2 separate regions of the Homo sapiens genome follow, and region 2 is linked to region 1. A link means that fine-mapping ties the variant in region 1 to the expression of a gene that starts in the linked region. Tissue or cell type: T cells. Region 1 holds a variant in brackets; the other region holds the start of a gene. All regions are shown on one strand. Distances are between the middles of the regions.

What was found. PIP is the estimated chance that this variant, and not a neighbour inherited with it, causes the effect.
Region 2: OR4E1 starts here. The variant in region 1 is fine-mapped to the expression of OR4E1 in T cells (GENCORD, PIP 0.95).

The regions. Positions count from the first base shown.
Region 1 is chr14:21,720,744-21,728,854 of GRCh38, reverse strand. It overlaps TRA and TRAV3. Among named protein-coding and RNA genes, the nearest start is that of OR4E1, 51 kb to the right of the region's middle. The variant T/C (reference allele first, on the strand shown) is at 4,996.
Region 2 is chr14:21,670,704-21,678,814 of GRCh38, reverse strand. It overlaps OR4E1 (olfactory receptor family 4 subfamily E member 1), which reads left to right and starts at 4,997. Exons shown (of 2, transcript NM_001317107.2): 1 at 4,997-5,725; 2 at 7,863-8,111. The coding sequence starts at 7,880. It also overlaps TRA.

The DNA.
Region 1 (8,111 bases):
TCAATTTCATTAATTAAGAGATGAGGCACATAGAGTAGAAATGGCATGTCCAATGTCACATAGTTACTTAGAGGAAGAATCAGAAACAACCTATGCTCCCTAATTCTTAATTCAGTTCTCTTTCCACAAAGTTCTTGAAGTGATATAAAAGGGGGGAGAAAAATAAACCTTATGAAGATAAGTTTTCCAGAATTTCTCATTTTTCCTGAAGTTTATCTGTTTATAAGGAGTATTTCCCAACAAACAGGAAAAAGGAATGCTAGACTAACTTTTCTTTAAGTCAAAACAGAACTTCTAAAAAGACATAGTTGTTCCCTCTGAGCCACCTTAAAAAAGGGGGAAAATATAGATTCTCATTTCCCTACATAACTCCCCTCCCATCACCACCACCACCAATCACTACCACATGACAAAAGATTAATATCTAAGGCTTAGCTTAACCTTGGAGAATTTTCCTGAGAAGGAAATCATCTTGAGAGTTGTATCTCTTTGACTAAGAAGTAGTTCTGTTTGGGTAGGGAAGTGATATGAACACGTGTGCAGCCTGGGGAATGACTGGAGGGAAAGATTTGTTCACCACTGCATCTGCAGGGATGATAACAATGCCAAGCACATAGTCAAAACTCCACAAATAATCATTGAGTGAATAAGTGAATAGCTAAATGAATAAATACATCATAATTGTATAGAAAGACTTCTTTCCTTTGCAGGACTTGCATAAATTGTATTTATAAGTATCAAAGGCAGAAACAGGCCACACAGCCAGGTCAATGGTGTAATGTGATAAAAATATCCCTGTGGACATGAACTTCCTTTGGAGTGAAAACAGTGATGGTGGCTGAGAGCTTACCTAGAGTTATGGCAACTGTATACTTAAATCTAAAACAGATACCATGGTTTCATGAATACAAATGTATTCTGGCAGTAATGGTACAGAACACTGCCACCCTTAGACCTGAGCAAGTGACGTCCCTGCTCAGAGTTCTGTGCCTCCACCCCAGCTATTATTCAGCTATTCTTATCCCTTTCCCTGTGAGAAAATCACAGGACAAAGGAGACATAGCCCTTTAGAGTCTAAATACCTCTTCTTGACCATATTCTGGGTACTAGGATTTCAGAATTCCCTGCACAAACATCCCCAAACACACTTTTAAGATCTGCATGGGCCTATCTCAAGGATTATCTTCCCAGAAGCAGATATCCCACCTGTGTACACAACTCTAGGCCCAATGGGTGGCCAAAAGATCACTGTTTGCCTGGACTGTAGACATGTGGGCTAAGGTGTCCACATCCTTGTGTATAAGGCTTCTCAAGGTATGTGATGGATTGAAGGATAGGAAAAGAAGGCTGGTAAATCACAAGGTACAAACCAAAGGCTGCAGGGTGAATCTCCCTAAAGCAGCACATTCTAGCACAAAACTATAAAAATCAAGAGTTCAAAAGTAGATCTGAGTATATCTAGGAATTTAATGTACTATAAATATGGTATTTCAAATCTATGGGGCAAAAGTGAATTTTTCAGGAGGTGGTGTAAGAACTACTGGCTATCCATTTGGGGGAAAAAATAAACAGATGTAGATCCCTGTGTAAAAATTAACTTATTTGGGGACATACTCCTTTTAACCAGGCAGTTCAAAATAGAGCTGCTAACTTGCAGAATCCTCACTCCCACCCCCAGCCACCAAAGGTGGAAGCCAAGCTGGGCTAATCCAAGCAGCCTGTACCCATGGCCACCACTGATTAGTCCAAGGAAAAGCCACCTAACTCACACTGAGTCAAACAGAGCCCTTCCCACGACACTCAAATTTGGGAAAAGATAAAGAGAGAAAAGTGCATTAAGTCCAGTTCCTCTCAAGAGCATAAGGAAGATGTGAACATAGGAACCGTAAGCAACTATCCTTATAAGAACTACACGTTTATACCCTTCCTTGATTCAAACTCTCCTCCCATTACAGACTGCTTCTGTCTTCTTTCACAGCTAAGCTATTCCTATATCCTCATCTCATAGAGCATTTTTTGAATTCTCTATCTTGGCACACACCAAACTGTTTAGAGTGTCAGTGTATTGTTCATTCATATAACCAACACTTTTCCGACAGCGACCCTTTCTGGAGTTAGGGCTACACCATCACCAAAATCAGTCTCTTGCCCCAAGAAGCCTATAGACTGGCAGAGGAGTGGAGTAGTTGGACCATGTGCCCTACAGACACACTGCCTGGGTTGCAATTTACCAGTTATTAACTTTGTGACTTGAGCAAGATACTTAAATTCTCTGTGACTTTGCTTCTTCATCTGTAAAGTGAAGCTGATGATAATACTTGTGAGAATTAAATGCGTTCATTAATGTTTGGAAACACACCTGGCACATAGAGATCAAAGATAGCTTCTTTCAATTCTTTTTTAAACTGACAAATAAAATTGTATATATGTATGGTATACAACATAATGTTTTGAAATATGTGTACATTGTGGAATGGCTAAATCAAGCTAATTAACGTCTGCATTACCTCACATACATATCCTTTTTGTGGTAAGAACACTTAAAATCTACTTTCAGCAATTTTTAGAAATTTCTGTTGCAGCTGGGCGCGGTGGCTCACGCCTGTAATCCCAGCACTTTGGGAGGCTGAGGCAGGCGAATCACAAGGTTAGGAGTTCGAGACCAGCCTGGCCAACATGGTAAAACCCCGTCTTTACTAAAAATACAAAAAAATAGCCAGGGTTAGTGACGGGCTCCTGTAATCTCAGCTACTTGGGAGGCTGAGGCAGGAGAATAGCTTGAACCTGGGATGTGGAGGTTGCAGTGAGCCGAGATCACTCCACTGCACTCCAGCCTGGGCAACAGAGTGAGACTCTGTCTCAAAAAAAAAAAAAAAATTCTGTTGCAAATACATTATTATTAGCTATAGTCACCATTGCAGTAGATATCTTGAACTTATTCTTCCTATCTAATTAAAATTTTGTGTCCTTTAACCAACATCTCTCCAATCCCTTTCCATTCCCCTCACAAGCCTCTGGTAACCACAATTCTATTCTGCTTCGATAAATTCAACCTTTTTATTACACAAATAAGTGAGATTATGTGGTATTTGTCTTTCTGTGCCTGGCTTATTTCACTTGACATAATGTCCTCCAGGCTCAATTGTGTTGTCACAAATGGCAGGATTTCTTCCTTTTATAAGACTGAATAGTATTTTATTGTGTTTATATGCCATGTTTTCTTTATCCATTCATCTAAGTATAGATACTTAGATTGATTCCATATCTTGGTTATTGTGAATAGTGCTGCAATAAACATGAGAGTGCAGATATCTCTTTAACATACTGATTTCATTTTCTTTGGATATATGCCCAATAGTGAGACTGCTGGATCATACAGTAGTTCTATTTTTGGTGTTTTGAGAAACCTCCCTACTGTTTTCCATAATGGTTGCACATTATGGAATTTACGTTCTTGCCAGCAGTGTGGAAGAGTTCCCTTCTCTTCACCTTCTCAACAATGGTTGTTATCTTTTGTCTTTTTGATAATAGCCAACCTAATAGGTTGTGAGGTGATATCTAATGGTGGTCTTAATTGCACGTTCCTGATAATTAATGATGTTGAGCATTTTTTATATACCTCTTGGCCATTTTTATGCCTTCATTTGAGAAACGACTATTCAGTTCCTTGGCCTATTTTTTAATCAGGTTATTTGGATGTTTTTGGTATGTGAGCTTCTTAAACATTTTGAATATTAACCCCTTATCAGATGTAGAGTTTGCAAATATTTCCTCCCATTCCATAGGCTTTCCCTTCACTCTATTTATTGTTTCTTTTGCTGTGCAGAAGCTTTTTAGTTTAATATAGCCCCATTTGTCTATTTTTGCTTTTGTTGCCTGTGCTTTTGGGGTCATATCCAAAAATTCCTTGCTCACAAGAGATGAAAAGCTTTCTCCTGGGTACTATGTTCACTCTTCGGGTGGCAGGATCAATAGATGCCCAAACCACAGCATCACACAATATGCTTTTGTAACAAACTTGGACGTGTATACCATGAACCTAATTTTTTAATGGTCTCAACAGGGTATGTAACATTGCAAAATTATTATGATGATGACATTTCACCTCGGTATAAAAAGAAATGTCTGTTGAAAATAAACCCCTTTTCAGAAAGAAAGAAAGAGAGAGAGGCAGGGAGGGAAGGAGGGAGGAAGGAAGGAAGGAAGGAAGGAAGGAAGGAAGGAAGGAAGGAAGGAAGGAACTTCTTGCCCAGACCAATGTCATGGTAATTTTCCCCTATGTTTTTTTCTATTTGTTTTACACTTCTTTCACCTTTTTATGACCGGTGCTTTGCCCAGTACCTGGCACATCAGGACTCAATAAACACTTGCTGAATGAGCAAATTCTATGGTTTTAAATTGTAGTTTAACATAATAAGTGACATATCCTGGAAGCACACCGTTCTCATGTGAAGGAACAAAGACTTCAAGAAAATGGGCTTTACCAGACTCAAGAGTTTGTGTTCTGCTCCCCCTGCAGCCCCTATCAGTGTGTGTCTCTCACAGCACAGAAGTACAAAGCGGAGTCGCTCACAAGGGCAGATGGTTTCTTCAGGTGGAAGGAGGTTTGGCTCTTGTTAAATTCAGCTTCAAAGCCATAGCTGCCTTTAACCAGGTTATCCCCTGTGATGTATTTCAGAAGGAACTGGAGGCCTCGGTTGGGGTATTGAACATACCAAAAAAGATAAGGGTTTCCAGAGACTGAATAGGTGCATTTCACAGTCAGAGGATTCCCTTCAGCAACGTTGACCTGATCTTCCGGCTGAGCCACTGACTGAGCTCTCAGCCCACCTGTAAATTAATCATGCTGCATCAGTGAAGCTGCTGGAGAGCATGTAAGTGGATCATGCGAGTGGAAAATGGGAAGGGGATATTACTCACTCAATGTGAAGAGCATCGCAAGCATCGAGATGGGTGCAGAGGCCATGGCTCCAGCTAAGCTCACGGCGGGCGGGA[T/C]TGGGGGGGTCCTTTCCAGCCCACCTCTGCTGGAGATATGGCCCCACCCCAGAGAGTGGGCTCTTGAAGAGGAACCAGCAACCCTGTGTCAGCACAGGGCTTTTGGAAATGGCCCTTCCTCAGGGCACTGGTGCTTCCCGACACCGGTATCTTCTCTCTGTGGAGCACAATTTTGATCCAGCTCCTCAAAGCTCTGTGAGGAGCAAGACTGCCGCTCCGCCTATGCCCAGGACAGACCTTACACTGCATCGCCCCCTAGAGCCCACACGTAGGACCAGCGACTTTACTGTCAAGCAGCTGGTGCTTCCTGGCCTTATCCCTGGGCCAACCTTTGGATGGTTACACGCTCCATGAGGGACATAGGGAGCAAATTAGGGGTTCAAAGGAGAAGAAATAGAAGTTTGTGAATCAAAGTGGAAAAGATTCAGGCTGAGTGGATCAAGCTGTAAATGATTTGTGCTCTCTTAAGATAATGTAGAGACAGAAAGAAGGGAAATAGGATGGGAAAATGCACAGAAAAAGAAAGGAAAATATAGCTTTGCATCAAGAGGGAGAGAAAAATTTAAAGTGAGAGATAAGAAAAAGCAAAATAGGAGAAAAGAGTAAGGCAAGAGAAGATAAATGACAGGCGAAAACAGGAGCCTTGCTCTTCTCGTTAGAAGTAATTCAGAGCTGGCTTCTGTGTAAACCTCTTTGACCAAAAATAACTCAGAATTTTCTCCACGTTGGGCCTATTAGGAGCCCATCCCATAATGATCTTTAGGGCAAAAAGAAACTTGAATCTTCTCTTTAAACATTTTTAGAGTGAGAAAAGTACGAATAGGTGTTATAAATATTTTTGGAGCATTTGTCATATTAAACAGTACATATAAAACAAAAAAATGAAACTCTGAGAAGGGGTTGCAAAACAGGTACTTTCCACATGCAGAGCCTACTTAAAACAGACTTCAAATGAAGTACGTATTCAGCAAAAAATGTATGGTTAACGAAACTTGATGTATTATGATGGGGAAAAGGGGTTCATTGGAAAGGGATGGCATGCTAAAGTTTTATACTAAAAAAAGGCAACAATAGCAACTGAGTGATTCTTTGATAGATTTTAATTTTAATGTAAAAAGCATGTATCAATATAAAGAAGTTGTTCCTCTGATTTGCCTTCTGTTTCTTTTGAATAGTGTCCAAATAATGTTCACTATATATTCTGAGGAAAGGATGAAAAATCTCTTTGCTTTGAATCAGAAAAAAAGTGGAACATAATTCTTTCTAAAAGCTTTGCTAAAGATCTCATATTTAATCATTGAAAACTTAGCCATATAATAATGTTTTTCTTTGGAATTGGTAAACTGTCTTTAAACAATAATCTTCAAGTTCCAGAGAGACTTGTCATAAATGGAAACATATAGTGAATTTCTTCTCTTTCTTCTCTCTCTGCCTCAAGCCTAAAATGAGTGTTAGTGTTGTCTTTTTGAGGGTCCTGGCAATCGCCTCGAGAAAATCATTGAAAAAAAGCTTAACAAAAAGAATATTTTTAAGTGTATGTGCAAAATTTAGGGAAAACTACAAGGGAAGGTGAAGCACCTGGGGCTAATAACAGCCAGAAGATTTCACCACTCCTAGGCCCAAAGGGACGGGAGAAGATGAAATTACCCTAATCTCAGGACACCTGTAACTAATCACAGGCCAAAGGCGACATGACCCTTTACAGTCTAAATACCTCTTCTTGACCATATTCTGGGTAGACCCAACAGGAGCTGTAAACTTCAGTAGAGGAAAGAAAGGATCCTAAAATGCAAATATCTTGACCACTCTCTCCTGCTAATACCTCCCACTGGGGTAAACCCAACCAGATGCCAATGGACATGGGAGACCAGTCCACATAACGTATAGAAGTCAGCCTCCTGGGGTACAGAGCAGGATATAATAGACCTGAAGAGGAAAATGGAGAAATGTCCAGCCCTCTGATGCTGGAGTTTATTGCTGCCCTACAAATGCATATACGGGCATAGCTATACTGCATTTTGACAAACATAAAAAGACAAATAAAATAAGTTTAAAACAATAGTCTAATATAGACTTTAGTACAGAGCAGGATAGAATAGACCTGAAGAGGAAAACAGAGACTGTCCAGCCTCCTGACACTGGAGTTTATTGCTGCCCTATAAACGCATATATGGGCATATATCAACATATGATATGATCAACATAAAAAAGCAAATAAAATAAGTTTAACTAAAACAGTAGTCTAGTGTAGACTTCAGTGCCTTGATTATTTTTCCAATCCCTACTTCCTCTGACCTCTACAGATACAGCACACAAGATTATGCCTAGATCGTGCAAGTGGCTGAGATATTGTTTGCCTTCATCCATTTAATAATTAATGCCAAGAGCCTCAAGTGAACTAAATATTTAGGAGACTGATATTTTTAATTTTGTGCTAGAAATGGTTGATTGTTTAGTGGTCTCCCCCTAAAGGATACTTATGGAAGGAACTAACCATATTTATTAATTAAGCATGTTCAGCTATAGAAAGAGGAAAGTTTTCCTCTGAATTTATGTCGTGGTTAGAAATGGGTAGTCATTTGCAATGACAGAACTGTTGCAGAATCCTTAATCATCTTCTTCTTAATCTTCTTCTTCTTCTCGTCTTCTTCATCTTCATTTTCTCCTTCTCCTCCTCCTCCTCCTCCTTCTTATTCTTCCTCAAAACTAGGACAGTTTAGTCTTCGTGTTTGCTTCCAGTTAAAGAACTGCCTTTTAACTGCTCAGCAGATAGAGAAGGATTCAGGGACCTCCACATAATGCACTGCACACAAAGTAACCAGCAGCACCCAAAGAATTCCATGGGCCTAGACTGAAATTTCAAAATTGAACAACATAGCCTCAGTAGCTATTCAGCTTATCTGCTTTGATTTCTGAGATTAATTAAGAAATTATTCATCAAATGTCGCCGTGAGCATAACATTAAACCCTTTACATTCTTTGTCACATTTACTCTTCCTAAGATGCCCCATTTTAGAGATGAGGGGACCACAGTTGAGGAAAATTGAATAATTTGCTCATCATCCTTAAGAAAAAGAACAAAGATTTTTAACCCATATTTTACCGACTTCAAAGGC
Region 2 (8,111 bases), 50 kb after region 1:
AATTTTTACAACCCTTCTACACCTTGTTCAAGCTTTTAGCTTATTCTAACATAATTTAAAACAATCCTTTAACCCTCTAAACTAGGCAAAAATTTACATTCCCATGCCTTCTTATAATCTTTTGCCAAAAACACATTTTACTATCCTCACATACCCTGCACGTAAAACTATTTTTTTCAGTAATCTCAATCACATCTTATAATGGTAACTCAGCAACTTTTGCTTTTGGTGCACAGATTTCCTTTCACGAATCCTTTCATGACTTACACAGACTTTCATCTACAGTGTGCTTGGACTTTCTGACTTGTCCTAAACATCTCTCTTTTTAAATAACCATTATTTTACTTTAGGATAAGAATTTAACATACAGTATTCTTTCTTATATAAAAATATCTTTTCTTTATAACCTTCTTTGCATGGCTAAGGGGCATTGCTAATTCCACATGTCCCCAGGGCTTATCTAGAATCTAGTGTCTTCAAGGTAGGTAAATTGAACAATTTTCAAAAGTCAAAACAGTTCATGACCTTAAAGCATTTAATAAACCTAATATCTGACCTGCCTAATTTAGACCAAATGTCTTTATTTTACCAATAATCTTTAAAGCTGTTTTTATTTCCCAAAGATTACTAAAGTTACATGAGCTAAAAGACATTAGGATTTTTATCTTTCTTTCAAAATATTTGATTTAAGAGCTTATTTTTATGCCAATTAATTAGAGATCTTTTATATAAACATCATACACACAACACATACATAAATACACAGACAGAAGAAGATCCAGTAGTTATTAGATGTTTTATTTGCCAGTTTCTTAATTCTGGCCTTAGGGCAGAGCCCTTCAAGAAACAGGGCTAGGAAAACATGCAGTTTTTACAAAATCTAGAATCTTCAAAGGTAGCTCAAAGAAAGGAAAATTCAAGAAGGGAAGTCAGAAGTTGTTCATGGAGAGGAAGAGAATTAACAAATGATAAAGGTCACACAGATATCAACCAGAAAGTATGCATTTCCTAAGCCAGGATTGAATCCAAGCCACCACTGTGAAAGAACAAAATCTTAGCTACTGAGCTACAGCACTGGGAAGTCTCCACTGCCCATCCCAGAAGGAGTCTAGAGTAGTTAATTTTGAGCTTGCAAAGGCTTTTAACTACTCAAGATAATTTTTAGAGGTAACTATGACATGAACCCTAAAATTCCTTTTCCCTGGAAGGCAGAGAGCAAGAGAAAGTACCACCATATGGTCACAAGGTCAAGCTCCCAAAGACATAAAACAATATGGAGACCTTATCCAGTTTTTTTGTTTGTTTCAGGATCCTGCAGCAAAGTTTGTTACTGACCAGCTTGCTGGGCCATCTTGAGCAGTGGGCTTATGGGGTTTAAAGCCCATGTTCAATCCTATGGTACCCCTCTTTATGAAAGAATGATACAGAAGATGCATAAACATACCAGATTCGCTACAGCTTAAGACTAACCTCATAAATACTTTTTTCCATTAATCAAAACTTTGCAGAAGATAAACAGTGATTTTTTACCATTCATTTAACCAGTTTACACAGGGAAAGAGAGGCCAGAACTTTCCCAGTTTGCACAAGGAAAGAGAAGCACAGGGAAAGAGAGGCCAGAAACCTGACTGGTAAGAAATTCTTACACTTTTGCCAGCGTGTTAGGTTCCTGGGTTCCCCTTCCCTGAAACATACTATAGTGCCAGGGAGCCAACCACATACACAAAAAATCATGGAACCACAGGCAAAATTTTCTCACTGTTGCAGGATGCCACCCAAGGGGTTGCATAGGGTAATGAAATTAACATTTGGCATTCTGGACAGAGCAAAATACATGTGACAAAACATAGACATTAGCCACTCTGCTTAGCATGCAGTATTGAACTGGCAAGGCTCAAACTTGCCCCTGGTTGAGCCCTGTCATCTTTAATCCATTTTTAACCAAGAGGGACTTTACTGAGGGGAGGGCCTCCAATGCAATCCCATCCTTTACTCAGGTAAAATGTACCCCACTACTTACCCAAAGTCAGCCAATTGGTGCTGCAGTCTGTTTCCTTTGGATCAGGATAGTAACTAAACTAAACAGTTAGCAGATTTAATTTTGAGGAGCCCTTTTTTTGTTTTTTTTTTGTTTTTTTTTGAGACAGAGTCTTACTCTGTCGCCTGGGCTGGAGTGCAGTGGTGCGATCTCGGCTGAGGGCAAGCTCCGCCTCCCGGGTTCATGCGATTCTCCTGCCTCAGCCTCCCGAGTAGCTGGGACTACATGCGCCCGCCACTGCGCCCGGCTAATTTTTTGTATTTTTAGTAGAGACGGGGTTTCACCCTGGTCTTGATCTCCTGACCTCGTGATCCGCCCGCCTGGGCCTCCCAAAGTGCTGGGATTACAGGCCTGAGCCACGTGGAGGAGCCCTTATTTTTAAATACACTTCTATGTTGTTGTTTATTCAGAACATTCCACTGTAAATTATCTTTAGTAAGATTTCACCATTTCTCTAAGACTTTGCTGCTTCCCAGGCCTAATGTATAAGTTGGAAGGAATGTATATGTATGTATAATGTATGTATAATGTATAAGCTAGAAGGAACTCAGTTTTTCAGAAACTGAGAATCCCATTTTTACCTAAAATATTGGCGTGGCTCTAGGTTCCATTGATTAACTTAGCCAATGATCTTTCCTACCTAAGTGTGCAAGAAAAATGAAACAAAGGAGTAGAACACAAAAATCCTTGTGAATTTTTAAAAGCAAAATTTTATAACCCCTGCAATATTACCTCTTACTACCAGTTTCTTTCTGACCCAGTCAGAGGTAAGAGGCTTCTAACTGGATCCAAGCTAGTTAATTACCAGATCAAATTTGATCCTCAACCCGTCCAGTTTCTGTCATGACTTTCAAACCCAGTTTGGATCAGAAATTTGCTCAAAGAAACCTGGAGAGCTCAAAACATAAATCTGTGGAGCTCCGAAATCTGAGAGAGAACTTACCACAATCCCCAGCCATTCTGAGACATCAAAGGACACAAATACGTTCATCAGGTAACTTGCTTGTTGACTCAGCAATTTTGGAGGTTGTTAGAAGGTCTACTTCAGATCCCACTTCTGACACCATTTGTTAAAAGAAAAGCTTCAGCCAAATTAAATTTAAAGAAGTTTAATTGAGCAAAGTATCATTCGCAAATCAGGCAGCCCCCAGAATCAAAGCAAGATTCAGAGAGACTCCAGCACAGCCACATGGTGGAAGAAGATTTACAGACAAAAGAAAAGGGGAAATGAAGTACAGAAATCAGAAGTGAGGTATAGAAACAGCTGGATTGGTGCACCAGGTTGACATTTGCCTTATTTGAACACAGTTTGAACACTTAGCAGACTATGAGTGGTTGAAGTATGGCTGCTGGGATTGGCCAAAACTCAGCTACTGTTACAGGTGCATACTCCTAAGTTAGGTTTTCAATCTTGTCTGCCTATTAAGCTAGGTTACAGGTCATCCACAAGGACTCAAGTACAGAGTCCTTCTCAGGCCATATTTCATTTGTTTTAACAGATAATTAGTATGGCCAGCATATCCCTGTTCTTAATGTGTCCCCTGATTTCCAAGGCTATTACAATGACAATAGAAGTCCCACAGTGACCAAGTGGCAATATCTGTAAAGTTCTGGAAGCTACACCTTCTTCATTACAGCCAAGTCTGGACTTTGATCAGTGATAATGAATCAAACAAGAAAACTAGGGAAAAGAAGCCCAAGCCACAAGGCCTTAGGAGAAAGCATTTTCTGTAACTTCTGATATGTTCACTCTTATTACCATCTTCTCTTCTACTCACTGTCACATGGAGAGTTGGCTATAAGATTTATTTTATGCTCCATACCCTTTATTTAAGATATCCTAACCATCCCACAAAACTATTCAGTCTTGAAATTCAAACTGAAAGTATAATCTTCATACCTCTCCTTTGGAGTCTTGTTTCACCAATTTAAACCACCAAGCTCATCTATCTAAAGAGAGAAAGCAAAAAGAAAATTGGAACAAGAGGTTCTAAATTTTCACTGTTATCCAAAATAATGAAAAAATGAAGCCAAAAATGTTGACTGGTAGTGATGGTCGGCTGTTTTTTTGTTTGTTTGAATTGCATTTAACATAATTATATTAATATGCTAAGAGCTACATGCTTTACAAATATTTCAAGAGTTCTAAAAAGTTTTACTATTACTATTCAAGCTTACGGATGGGAAATCTAAGGACCAGAGAAGCTAAATAACTTGCTCCAATTAGCACGTGTAGGACATTGGAATTTGCACCCAATCTGCTCTAGAGTCAAAGCACTTAATCTCTCTGTCAGAAAGCTGACTAAAATCTTAACCTCGGCTGGGCGCAGTAGCTCATGCCTGTAATTCCAGCACTTTGGAAGGCCGAGGCAGGCGGATCACGAGGTCAGGAGATCAAGACCATCCTGGCTAACACGGTGAAACCCCGTCTCTACTAAAAATACAAAAAAAATTAGCCGGGCAAGGTAGCAGGCACCCGTAGTCCCAGCTACACAGGAGGCTGAGGCAGGAGAATGGCGTAAACCTGGGGAACGGCGCCTGCAGTGAGCAGAGATCGCGCCACTGTACTCTAGCCTGGGTGACAGAGTGAGACTCCATCTCAAAAAAAAAAAAAAATCTTAACTTCATTACCCTTCTCTCATCTCTGTATTTTTATATGAGTTAAATAAGAAAACATGAAAGCCTATTACCTAATACTTAGCACATAGTAGGCAATCACTAAATAGTAGTTAATCTAACCATATATAAATACATCCTAAAGATTTAGGTATTTAAGTACTGCTTTTCTCATTTAATTCTCTTGGTGATTATTGCAAAGTCTGTAACTTCATTCCCCACAGAATTAACTTTTCTTAACTAGTGAGTAGGGCAAGCTGATGTCATTGCTTAAAAGTTCCCAAGGACATAAAGCCTATATAATGTAGGTAGAACAACACCAACACTACAGCTGCCAGCGCTTCTTTCTCTACAGATTCCCCTTCAGTACTTGAAGGTGGAATAATCCACCTGAAACTGGCAATACAAAACTTGCACCTAAACAGTGTGCTGCAAAGGAAATAGGATGCTTCTGCCGCACTGGTTTTCTGAATAATTAGATCAAGTTTTGTGTTAGAAGTGTCCTAATAAACCTGAAGGGCCTGCAAAAGTGGCTGACTCTTTTTTTTTTTTTTTTTTTTTGGACAGGGTCGTTGTGTTGCTCAGGATGGAGTGCAGTGGTAAAATCACGGCTCACTGCAGCCTTGACCTCCTGGGTTCAAGAAATCCTCCTGCCTCAGCCTCCTGAGCAGCTGGAACCACAGGTATAAGCCAACATGCCCAGCTAATTTTTTGTATTTTTTGTAGAGACGGGGTTTCGCCATGTTGCCCGGGCTTGACTGTGGCTTTTAATCTCCTCTACTCACCACTACAATCTGGAAAAGTGAAAACATATATATTATTTCTGTACTACATTTTCTGTTAACTGGAAACCAATCCTAGAAAATCTTGGTGCAGAATTACATATTTTGACATATTGAAAAATATGATAATAATATAGCTACAAAGGTGTGATTTTTACAGACAGCCTGAAATAGTACCTTTTACCAGAAAATATCGCCAAATACATCTACTGTGACATCACCAAAACTGTGAACAAGACCTAAGGAGGGAACTTCAAGGGCTCTCACCTTTCTTATTGGAGAAAGCAAGGTAAATGGGGTTATCTGACTAGTCCAACTTCAAATAAGTTGTTATTTCTACTGGAAGATAAAAGTCTTGATATTGAAAGTGCAGGACTGACACTTCTGTTACTTTTGGAGGTACTAAGAGCATCAGAAACAACCCAGGTGACTTTTATAGATATTTTAGTTGGATTTTATATCTGTTCTTAATCATCTTTCCCCATTTCCTTGAAATGTATGCAAAAAACACTAGGTTTTCTTCTTGTGCACCATATTCTTTCTACTGCAGTTGAACACATCTCCATTTTGCAAAGCATTTTTTTCCTGTGGCTCCACAGAAATAGAAAAAAATGATAATTATGGAAAAAGTTTAGTTTAAAATGTATATCCATATTCTATGAGGGGAGAACAGAAGCCTTCATTTCAGACCTAGTTCTTGGTCTGCACACCCTCTTCAGTCTGTGCAGGTGAAATTTCCCATACTGAATAAAATCCTAGCCCCATTCTTGGTCAGCTCTTCGGCTTTGAATTTTGCGACCATGAAAACAAGTGTAAATCAGTAACACTTAAAATCACTTCTTGGAGCAAAAGCTTCAAACGAATACTCGAAGAAAAATTTCTAAACAGTAAAATCAATCAATAGCTACATTTAGATGCTGCTGTAAATATTAATCCAAACACTGGACACAGTGAGTTTAATTTTTAAGTGTTAACTGAAGGACTTCTCTGGCCCCAAAAATATCTTCTTTGCCACATTTCACAAGCAGTGTGGGGTTGACTCATTAGTCTGCCAGGGAGCCTGATCTTGAGGGATGATATAAATCTCCAGTAGTCACTTGTGATAGGAAGGAAGTAGCAAGGATCATGGGGCCCAAGCAACCAAGAGAGACAGCTTCCTTGGGTGGGCCACCCCTGGAAGGCTGTGTGTGTCAGGGCAGCAGCATGAAGGAGGAAAGCTAGAAAAGAGAGATTCCTCATAGTCCCCCTAACCCTGCCCCACAATCTGACTCAGGACACCAAGGAGAGGAAGAGAGAGGCCACTAAGACATATTCTGCTTCACTCCCTGATTCTACCAACTACCACAAAAATTCAGATGAGAGTGGTGGTAGAGCGGACGAAGCCTGAACCAAGAGTCGGGAGACCTGAGCTCTAGACCCAGCTGTGACTCCAGTTCCGTGTAACCTTGGACCAGTTGATTTGACTCTCTGTGCCTCATTTTCTCTATTTGTAAAATGAAAAAAAAATAGATTATGTCAACTCTCAAGTCCCTTTAAGGGCTAAAATCCTGTGACTATAATGCATATGCTCGTTATTTTAAAAAATAGTGGTGCTTGAGTCATAGGCTAATTTAAAAGAAAATAACTATTTTTATTTCACTTGTGGGCCAGTAAGACAACAGAACGGGACTTTGAAAAGAGCTAGAGTGATCTAATCAAGACAGTAATGTTATTAGGCTTGGATCTTGACTCCCAGTTTAAGAATAAGTCTGCCCTCAGCTGAGGGGTGGAGGAGAGGTCAACTTCCACATTTTCCAAGGCTTCCAGGGTTTTATCCTGCCTTCTCTAAACAATTGTTCAAGAACATCACAGCCACGTTGCCAATTGTCCAGTAGCTTGGTACAAAGCTTCTGCCCTCTGAAAGTTATGTCATGGAAATTACAGTCTCAGAGCCCCATGGCAAAGCCAACAGCTGAGCAAGTGGTTTGGGTTGATGAAAAGTGCAGTCTGCAGGACTATTAAAAAAAAAAGCTATGTTCAGGGACCATATTTGTGTAGCCTTGAACAAATTATGTATTTGAGTTAAAGAGAATCTTAACTTCTTCTCCTGTAAAAATCCATAACCTAAATCTAAACATTGATATCCTACTACATTAATGGAGAAATAACTTGTTTGGTCTTTCCCTCTCTCTCTCCCTCTTCAAGATTGTTTTATATCTCTTAATGAATGAAGATTCTCTATTTTATTATTCCAAAAGTGTATGTTAAGTACCTACTATGGGTGTATCATCATGTAAGATGTTAATGGGGATTTTTAAAAGAAATGCAAGATATTTTACCATAAATTCTAGATGGAGAGAAAAGGCATAAACACACAAGAAATTAAATGACCAAATGATTGATGCAGATACTGTGTTATATTAGACTTTTTTTCTAATTCTTTACAGGTTGTCTAACAAAGAGAATGGAAGAGGCCATCCTACTCAATCAAACTTCTTTAGTGACATATTTTCGGCTTAGAGGTTTATCTGTAAATCATAAGGCACGGATAGCTATGTTTTCCATGTTCCTCATTTTTTATGTCCTGACACTGATTGGGAATGTTCTCATTGTCATAACTATTATCTATGACCACCGGCTCCATACTCCCATGTATTTCTTCCTCAGCAACCTGTCCTTTATTGATGTCTGCCACT